2 separate regions of the Homo sapiens genome follow, and region 2 is linked to region 1. Evidence: fine-mapped expression QTL. A gene starts in region 1. The other region holds a variant in brackets. All regions are shown on one strand. Distances are from middle to middle.

What was found. PIP is the estimated chance that this variant, and not a neighbour inherited with it, causes the effect.
Region 2: its variant is the best candidate, but not a certain one, in a credible set for the expression of SLC2A1 in whole blood (INTERVAL, PIP 0.66).

The regions. Positions count from the first base shown.
Region 1 is chr1:42,956,759-42,961,258 of GRCh38, reverse strand. SLC2A1 (solute carrier family 2 member 1) reads left to right here and starts at 2,391. Exons shown (of 10, transcript NM_006516.4): 1 at 2,391-2,625. The coding sequence starts at 2,608. SLC2A1-DT (SLC2A1 divergent transcript) reads right to left here and starts at 2,210. Exons shown (of 4, transcript NR_033967.1): 1 at 1,682-2,210. RefSeq lists silencers at 2,035-2,218, 2,091-2,500, 2,631-3,270.
Region 2 is chr1:42,928,351-42,932,603 of GRCh38, reverse strand. It overlaps SLC2A1 (solute carrier family 2 member 1), which reads left to right. Exons shown (of 10, transcript NM_006516.4): 3 at 1,398-1,558; 4 at 1,738-1,978; 5 at 2,569-2,731; 6 at 2,824-3,011; 7 at 3,290-3,394; 8 at 3,571-3,672. Among named protein-coding and RNA genes, the nearest start is that of SLC2A1, 28 kb to the left of the region's middle. RefSeq lists enhancers at 296-465, 2,736-3,376, 3,377-4,019. The variant C/T (reference allele first, on the strand shown) is at 1,861.

The sequences.
Region 1 (4,500 bases):
ACCCAAAAGGTACTTAAGGAAAGACTGGAAGTATCAGCAGGACGGACTGGAGGGGAAGGAACATTCAACACAGGTAGATTAGCTGCTCACTCATTCGTGCATTCCTTCCCTCCTTCAGTCATTCACCCACGTGCCTCAGCTGCAGAACCTGTCCTCAAGGTGCTCACAGGCTGAGGGAAGGCAGACAGAGGACAAGTGGCAACCTACAAAACACCAAATGGTAAAGGAGAGAAAGATTTCCACTTGGGAGAACCAGGGACACTTCCCGGAGGAGGAAGGACCCATGGTGCTTTTTGGCATGGTGAGGTCGGGGAGGGCTTCCCAGGCAGAGGAGACAAGCTGAGCAAATGTGTGGATGTGAGTTGCTGGTGTGAGGGGCGAGGCTGAGCGTGTAAACTGGTGCCATGAAGAAGGACCGTGATGGCCAGGCTTGGCCCTTACTCCCTCCATGACAATTTCAGACAGATGAGCAGGAGAGTGGCAGGGTGCAGGACTGGAGGACAAAAGACCAGAGGAGATGGAGGCCCTGCAGACAGCAGGGGAGGGAAGGAGGATGAGGTGGTGTAGACAGCGGAGTCAGCAGGACTTGGTCTGTCCAGGGGTGAGGAGAGAGGTGGCCCAAGCTTTCCAGGCTGAGCATAGAGAGACCACAGGAATTGAAGCCTTGGGCAGGGGGGTGCCCAGAATGCACCTGCCTTCTGTTTCAGGGCTCCATACTCAACCAAGGTGCCCCTCAGCCAGAACTGGACACATTGCCAGAGAACTCCAGGGGTCATCTGGTCGGCTCAGCCTCCCGGTTTCCGACAGACAGTAAGCCCACCATGACTCCCTCCATCGGGAAAGGGACCCTCAAGACTTTGATCAGACCTTTGGACTGGGGGTCCTTCCCTTCACTGTGTCTCAAGTAAGGCACTGGTCTAGAGGAAATAAGGTGAAGTCAGATGATAGCAATACCACTACCAGTGCAGTGGCACATGCCTGCACTCCCAGCTACTACGGAGGCTAAGGTGGGAGGATCACTTGAGCCCAGGAGTTTGAGACCAGCATTTATTTATTTACTAACAGACTAAATAAATAAACCAACAATACCACCAACCAGTAAATGAGAACTTCCATGCTAAACACTTCATGAGCTTATCTGGAAATTGCACCTCTCCTGATAGCAATGAGATTGGTGTGGGAATTCCATTTACTCATAAGAAGACAGCCTCGGCCGGGCTCAGTGGCTCACGCCTGTAATCCCAGTACTTTGGGAGGCGAGGTGGGTGGATCACGAGGTCAAGAGTTCAAGACCAGCCTGGCCAAAATGGTGAAACCCCGTCTCTACTAAAAATAAAAATAATTAGCCAGGGGTGATAGCGGGCGCCTGTAATCCCAGCTACTCGGGAGGCTGAGGCAGAGAACTGCTTGAATCCGGGAGGCGGAGGTTACAGTGAGCCGAGATCGTGCCGCTGCACTCCAGCCTGGGCGACAGAGCGAGACTCTGTCTGAGAAAAAAAAAAATTAAAGAAAAAAACGAAAACAGCCTCACTGGCCAGGAACTCGCCCAGGATCGCGGCCGGGCCAGTATACAGTTGAGCTGGTTCAAACCCGAGGTCTATCATGTCCTTAATGTCCTATCATGTCAGTCAGTTAGCCTGCCTTTCATATTTTCCACACTTACAGGTCACCATAGACTCACCTGAACTGTGAGAAGTAGAGGAAGGCGTCCCAGAGGAGGTGATTTTAAAGCCCAGGTTTGAGATGGGTATGCATTTCCAGGCAAGAGAGCCCGGCCGGTGCAAAAGCAAGGCTTGGCTCACAAACGGGAATGTGGGGGGTGGAGACAGGGAAGGGAGAAGTCAATCCCTGGGCAAGACCTCCTGGAGTCTCTCTAACAAATAAATACTACTTTCCATGCAGTAGACGCTGTTCTAAACACTTTACAAATATTAACTCACTTGGTCTTTCTACAACCCTACGAGGTGGTACTGTTACTATCCCTAGTGCACCGAAGTCACCCAGCGGCCGAGTGAGAACTCCAGTCCAGCTTTCCACCCGCTACTCCGCGCATCCCAGCTTGCCTTACAGCCGGGTACCGGCTCCACCATTTTGCTAGAGAAGGCCGCGGAGGCTCAGAGAGGTGCGCACACTTGCCCTGAGTCACACAGCGAATGCCCTCCGCGGTCCCAACGCAGAGAGAACGAGCCGATCGGCAGCCTGAGCGAGGCAGTGGTTAGGGGGGGCCCCGGCCCCGGCCACTCCCCTCACCCCCTCCCCGCAGAGCGCCGCCCAGGACAGGCTGGGCCCCAGGCCCCGCCCCGAGGTCCTGCCCACACACCCCTGACACACCGGCGTCGCCAGCCAATGGCCGGGGTCCTATAAACGCTACGGTCCGCGCGCTCTCTGGCAAGAGGCAAGAGGTAGCAACAGCGAGCGTGCCGGTCGCTAGTCGCGGGTCCCCGAGTGAGCACGCCAGGGAGCAGGAGACCAAACGACGGGGGTCGGAGTCAGAGTCGCAGTGGGAGTCCCCGGACCGGAGCACGAGCCTGAGCGGGAGAGCGCCGCTCGCACGCCCGTCGCCACCCGCGTACCCGGCGCAGCCAGAGCCACCAGCGCAGCGCTGCCATGGAGCCCAGCAGCAAGGTGAGTCGCGCGCCCGCGGGCCCTCCCGCCAGGAACAAAGGCGCAGACTCCTGCCCGCCTTACGCCGGCCAGGGCCTCCCCCGCCGCCCCGCTGCGCTGTGCGCCCGGGGCGGGCCGCGCGCCTCTCCGAGCCTGGCTCGGTGCGGGTCCCGAGCGCAGCGCCCCGCCGGGCCGCTGGCCGCAGTGGGGATGGGCTTCGGATCTAGCGGGCCGGAGGGCGCCGCGTGCGTAGTTGGCGCCGGCACTGAGCACATGGCCTCCTTCCGGGGGCGCCGCGCCGTCCACGCGGCCCTGCTGGGGCTGGGGACACAGGGCCCGGGAGCGGCACGTCGCACACGACCTCGGCAGCAGCAGCCCAGCCTCGGCCCCTCCCGGTGCGGGGGAGGGGGCCCGAGCGCGGCGCCCATTGGCTGAGCGGGCCGAGCCCCCGGCCCGGCCCCGGCCCCGGCGCGCGGAGGAGTCAGGAGCCGCCCCCGCTCTCCGTCTGCTCCCCTAGCCCGGACGCCCCTGTAGGTGGGCGGCCTGGTGCGAGGTGTCCCACCGGCCTCCCCTACTCCTCCCGCCAGTCCCCCGCGGTGACGAGGCCGAGGCCGAGGGGAGGGCACTTTTCTCCAGGCCCGGGCTCGAACGCGGGGGTTGAGATGAACCTCCGGTCTCGGAGGCTCTCCTTTGCGAGGAGTGCAGGCCCCAAAGCTTTGGCCCAGTCTCGCGGAGATGTGTTCCGCGGAGGCAGGTTTACCCTCGGGGCCAGGCGGGGAGCGCAACCGGAGGGGCGGGGGATCTGGGGGCCAGGAAAGAGCCCCAGGCTGAAGTCTAGCGGGAAGCGCGCACGCCACGGGGTTGGGGAATGAGGGATGGGGACTCTGGGGACCAACAACTCCCTAGATAGGATTTCTTTTTTTCTGTGTAAGTGGGCTTGTCCTGCAGGGCATCTTTGTAGCGTCCGCAGAGCGATTTCTTTTCAACAAATTGTTTGTGGAGCCCCTCCTGTGTGTAGGGCATTGTTTCTTTCCACCTCCTTTCCTCCCCCTAGTCTACAATATTTTCAAGTCCCCTTTTTCTTTTGAAACGGTCCCTCTTTATCTATTATACTTTGATTTTTCCATCTCGTCAGCTGGGAGGGCACCTGGATGGCCCTTGTTTTCTTAGCTGGGACGCGGGGGTAGCACTGAATTTTGAACTGCCCTTCCTACTGGCTGTGGAGGTGTCCCGCTGAGACTGAGCGGGGTGGCGCTGGGCCGCACCCTCGGCAGGAAAAGGCCTTCCGCCCCACACCTGTTGAATCCATAAATCCAGACGACTTGGTTCACCCTTCCTGGGCCCTCGCTTGAGGTGAGACCCCGGGGAAGTTCCCGGGGAAGGCTCCCAGGATCTTAGGTGAGCCGTAAGGGTGGGATATAACTAAACAAAAGTTCAGTGAGAAGCTCTTCTAGCTAGTGGCAAGGAAGTCCAAATATCTCAGGGCTCTTGCAGGCCACTTAACTTCTGGGCCTCAGTTTTTCCATCTGAAAGAGATCACTTTTGTCACTTCCTCTAGGGAAGGAACTATCTATTCAGCATACTATGCCAGACATGGGTATTTATTTGTTGAGTGGATAAGGGAATACTACGTGGAGACAGAAAAGTGGAGGAGAAAATCAGCAGGTTCTTAGCCAAACTACTTTAAGCGTCACGGACCTTATAGCCCTGCTGGTTACTCACTAGCCTGGAGCTCAGAGAAGGGAAATAAGTTTGCCAAAGTCACACAGCTAGTAAGTGGTTGAACTGGATTTGAACCCAGGCCCATCAGATTTAATTTCATTTCTGTCTCCACTGTCTCTCTTCACCACAACATTTCTTGAATTTTGGGCAGAAGGGAGAGAGTTTGCCTATCTT
Region 2 (4,253 bases), 29 kb after region 1:
CATGAACCTGTGGCATGCACACACACGGAGGGGTGTTGGGATGGGTTGGGTTCACATGGAATTGAGTTTGAGCTGTAAGTGGTAGGGGATGAGGGGCATGTGAGTTTGTGACTGGCTAAAGCAGGAATATTTAGATTCTATGAGCACGGGTATGTGTGTGTGATGGTATACGTGCATAAGAAGCCGTTTCTGGGTAACTAGGGCCTGCACTCTGCTATACGTGTGGCTGGGTGGGTCTGGCCAGTCCCATGGCACTGAGAGTGTGGTGAGTGTGCTCAGGCAGAACGGGTGCTGCCTGCCTACCACATCCGTGGGAGCTGGCCAGGGTGGGGGCAGGGCTGGTGGGCAGGGCTGCCCTAGGACGGGCGTTTCCAGTTCCTGGAACTGCTTCCTTGTGTGGAACCTTTCCCCATACCTCCTAGCTGGGCCCTTGGGAGAGGGGAGGAGGCCGTGGGTCCTTCAAGGGGGTGCTCGCAGGCCAGACACAAGGGAGCTAGGCCTGGGGAACAGAAAGCCACAGCGTGAGTCTTTCAAGCACTTCTGAAGGGTGACATGTGTGAGTTTGTCACACCAGGCCCTCAGTGCGGTCAGGGAGTCTGTACTTCCTGGATGGCGGAACCTGTCTGTCAAGCCCTGCTTCCTCCCCAGCAAGGGGTTGGGGGGAGGGCCTGATGGCAGGAGATGGGCCCCTGGGGCTTTGAGACATGGTGAGGAGAAAAGGGGCAAGTGGGAAGACCCTTTTCCTTCTGTATTTCTCTTTTTTTTTTTTTTTTTTTGAGACATAGAGTCTCACTCTGTCACTCAGGCTGAAGTGCAGTGGCACAGTCTTGGCTCACTGCAAACTCCGTGTCCTGGGTTTAAGCAATTCTGCCTTAGCCTCCCGTGTAGCTGGGATTACATGCTTGCGCCACCACGTCCAGCTAATTTTTTTTTTATTTTTAGTAGAGATAGGGTTTCACCATGTTGGTCTGGCTGGTCTCGAACTCCTGATCTCCAGTGATCTGCTTGCCTTGATCTCCCAAAGTGCTGGGATTACAGGCGTGAGCCACCACACCTGGTCTTGTACCTCTCTGTTCTATGCCTGAACTTCCACCACTGATCACTTGCCATCATCCCAGCAAGTCACACTGAGCCTGTGAAACCACAGGGCACTGGAAACCACACGTTAGGGGAAGTGGGAGAGTTGGCGGGGCTCTCAGATGAACTCCAACCCCTTGTTTCTCGCCTGGGGAAAGTGAGGCCCACAAAAATAGAGGGACTTGGCTCAAGAACATGCAGTGAATCTGTGGCAGAGCCAGGCCCTGGCCCTCTCTTAGGGAGGGGTGCAAGGGGAAAGGAAAAGGAAGACTGGGTCCTGGCCCCTGGCTTGCTCACCCAGGCTGCATCTCCCCCTGCAGGTGATCGAGGAGTTCTACAACCAGACATGGGTCCACCGCTATGGGGAGAGCATCCTGCCCACCACGCTCACCACGCTCTGGTCCCTCTCAGTGGCCATCTTTTCTGTTGGGGGCATGATTGGCTCCTTCTCTGTGGGCCTTTTCGTTAACCGCTTTGGCCGGTAAGTAGGAGAGGTCCTGGCACTGCCCTTGGAGGGCCCATGCCCTCCTGCCCAGGGAGTCCCAGATGGGGTGGGAGGTAGGGGAGACTTATCTGCCTGTTCCAGGGTATTACCTCTGACCCAGCCCCTCGGAGCCCAAGGAATGTGGGCACTGGCCTGACCTGTGACCCCGTCCCCAGGCGGAATTCAATGCTGATGATGAACCTGCTGGCCTTCGTGTCCGCCGTGCTCATGGGCTTCTCGAAACTGGGCAAGTCCTTTGAGATGCTGATCCTGGGCCGCTTCATCATCGGTGTGTACTG[C/T]GGCCTGACCACAGGCTTCGTGCCCATGTATGTGGGTGAAGTGTCACCCACAGCCCTTCGTGGGGCCCTGGGCACCCTGCACCAGCTGGGCATCGTCGTCGGCATCCTCATCGCCCAGGTAAGCTGGGGCAGGATCTACCTGCCTGGCACGGCCCCTGCCCACAGCTTCAGTGGCTCTCGGATCTGTGCCCAGCAGGGCAGAGTTTCTCTTCCGCCCAGCCCCCACAGCCTTGCAGAGGACAACTATGGTACACAGGTCCAGAGAACACAGCACCATGGCCTCCCAGTTGACAGCAAGATGACTTGACTCTTCTCAGTCCCTTTCTTCTCACTCTAGGCTTCCAACCACAGGGCCCGCCTTCCCCCAACATGCCGCAGGCTGTTATGCACAGTACCCTCTCTCCAGGAGGCTTCCCCTTCCCTGTCCCCAAAACCCTCTTGTGGCAGAGTAGCAGCCCCCATTCTCTGTGCTGGACACATCTGTGGCCTTGTCATTTGTCCTCCCAGCAACACTGTGGGGTAGGTCCTACTTTTCCCATGTGACCGATGAGGAAACTGAGAAACAGGGCTCATGCTAGTGGCAGAGCCTCTAGAACTGGGGCCCTTCCCTGAAGCAGCAGCTGACACAAAGTAGGGAAGGCCACTCTGGCAGGACGGGGTGGGAAAGGGGGTCAGGGCAGAGGCGCTCACGGCCCCTGCTTCCCCCAGGTGTTCGGCCTGGACTCCATCATGGGCAACAAGGACCTGTGGCCCCTGCTGCTGAGCATCATCTTCATCCCGGCCCTGCTGCAGTGCATCGTGCTGCCCTTCTGCCCCGAGAGTCCCCGCTTCCTGCTCATCAACCGCAACGAGGAGAACCGGGCCAAGAGTGGTACGGGCATGGCCCTGCCCTCCTCCCCACTCCCTGAGCCCTGGCCTTCTTCCCACTCTGAGCCACCCTCACCTTCCCTCCGGTCCCCCCAGTGCTAAAGAAGCTGCGCGGGACAGCTGACGTGACCCATGACCTGCAGGAGATGAAGGAAGAGAGTCGGCAGATGATGCGGGAGAAGAAGGTCACCATCCTGGAGCTGTTCCGCTCCCCCGCCTACCGCCAGCCCATCCTCATCGCTGTGGTGCTGCAGCTGTCCCAGCAGCTGTCTGGCATCAACGCTGTGAGTGCCCCCACCCACCCTTCCTGTGCCCCAGCCAAGCCCTCTGGTCAAGTGTGCATGGTGAACAAGTCCCAAACTTGAAACAACAGATACGCCTCTGCCGAAGAAGTTTCCCTTTAGACCCCAAGCCCGTAAGGTCACTGCAGTGCAGTGTCCCTTCTGCCTGAGTATTTGTCCCCTTCATTCTTTACTCATCCTGGGTCCCACATCCACTGCTACAGAGGCAGGGAAGGGCCACAATGTCCAGGTAGGCCCCAACAGTTTCTCTTGTCTGGCAGGTCTTCTATTACTCCACGAGCATCTTCGAGAAGGCGGGGGTGCAGCAGCCTGTGTATGCCACCATTGGCTCCGGTATCGTCAACACGGCCTTCACTGTCGTGTCGGTGAGTCTTTGCTTACTGGCCCCCCCAGCCAAACCCCAGGGAGGAGGCAGTGCCATCTTCCCCACTGGTCTTTGCAGTGCCCTGTGACTTTCTCAGCTCTTGAGGCAAGGCCTCTGGGTGGGTGGGTTCAGAAGGGCACTAGGCAGGGGTGGCACTGACACTGTCTCTGCCCACAGCTGTTTGTGGTGGAGCGAGCAGGCCGGCGGACCCTGCACCTCATAGGCCTCGCTGGCATGGCGGGTTGTGCCATACTCATGACCATCGCGCTAGCACTGCTGGTGAGTTGCTAGGTTCTGGAGAGTGAGGGATGCGGGAGAGTTTGCCTGGGCTTCATATCCCAAAATGCCTGTCTCAGCCCCAGGCTGGCAGGCCTTTTGGTGGCTGCATTCTCCCTGGCTGTGGGTCTGACTTTCTGGCTCCTGAAGTTGTCTCCTTCCAAACCACACACATCCTCTCTTGAACTTGCTCCTCCCTGCTTGATGGATTCTCAGCGCAGCACCTCTGGTCCCAGACCCCAAACTCTCACCTCCTTAAGGAATTGCTTTGCCTAATATTAACCCTTTCCAATCTTCATCTGTAGCCTCAATTCATCTTCACAGCAACCCCGGGAAGTAGTGCTGTCCTCCCCATAGAGGCGCAGAAACATGCCTTGCCTCATTCAGTTCACACGACTGGAGGTGTAGTTCAGTTCTTCCCATTTTATGGGGGAGGAAGCTTAAGTCCCAGTGAGGTTAGTAACTTGTCAGATAAAGGATGAAGCCAGGAATCAACCTCAGTCCCAGGCCTGTGACTGTGACCGCTGTGCTAACCCTGTGCCTGGCACTCACACACAGGCACTCGTTTATTTAGCCTCTGGGCA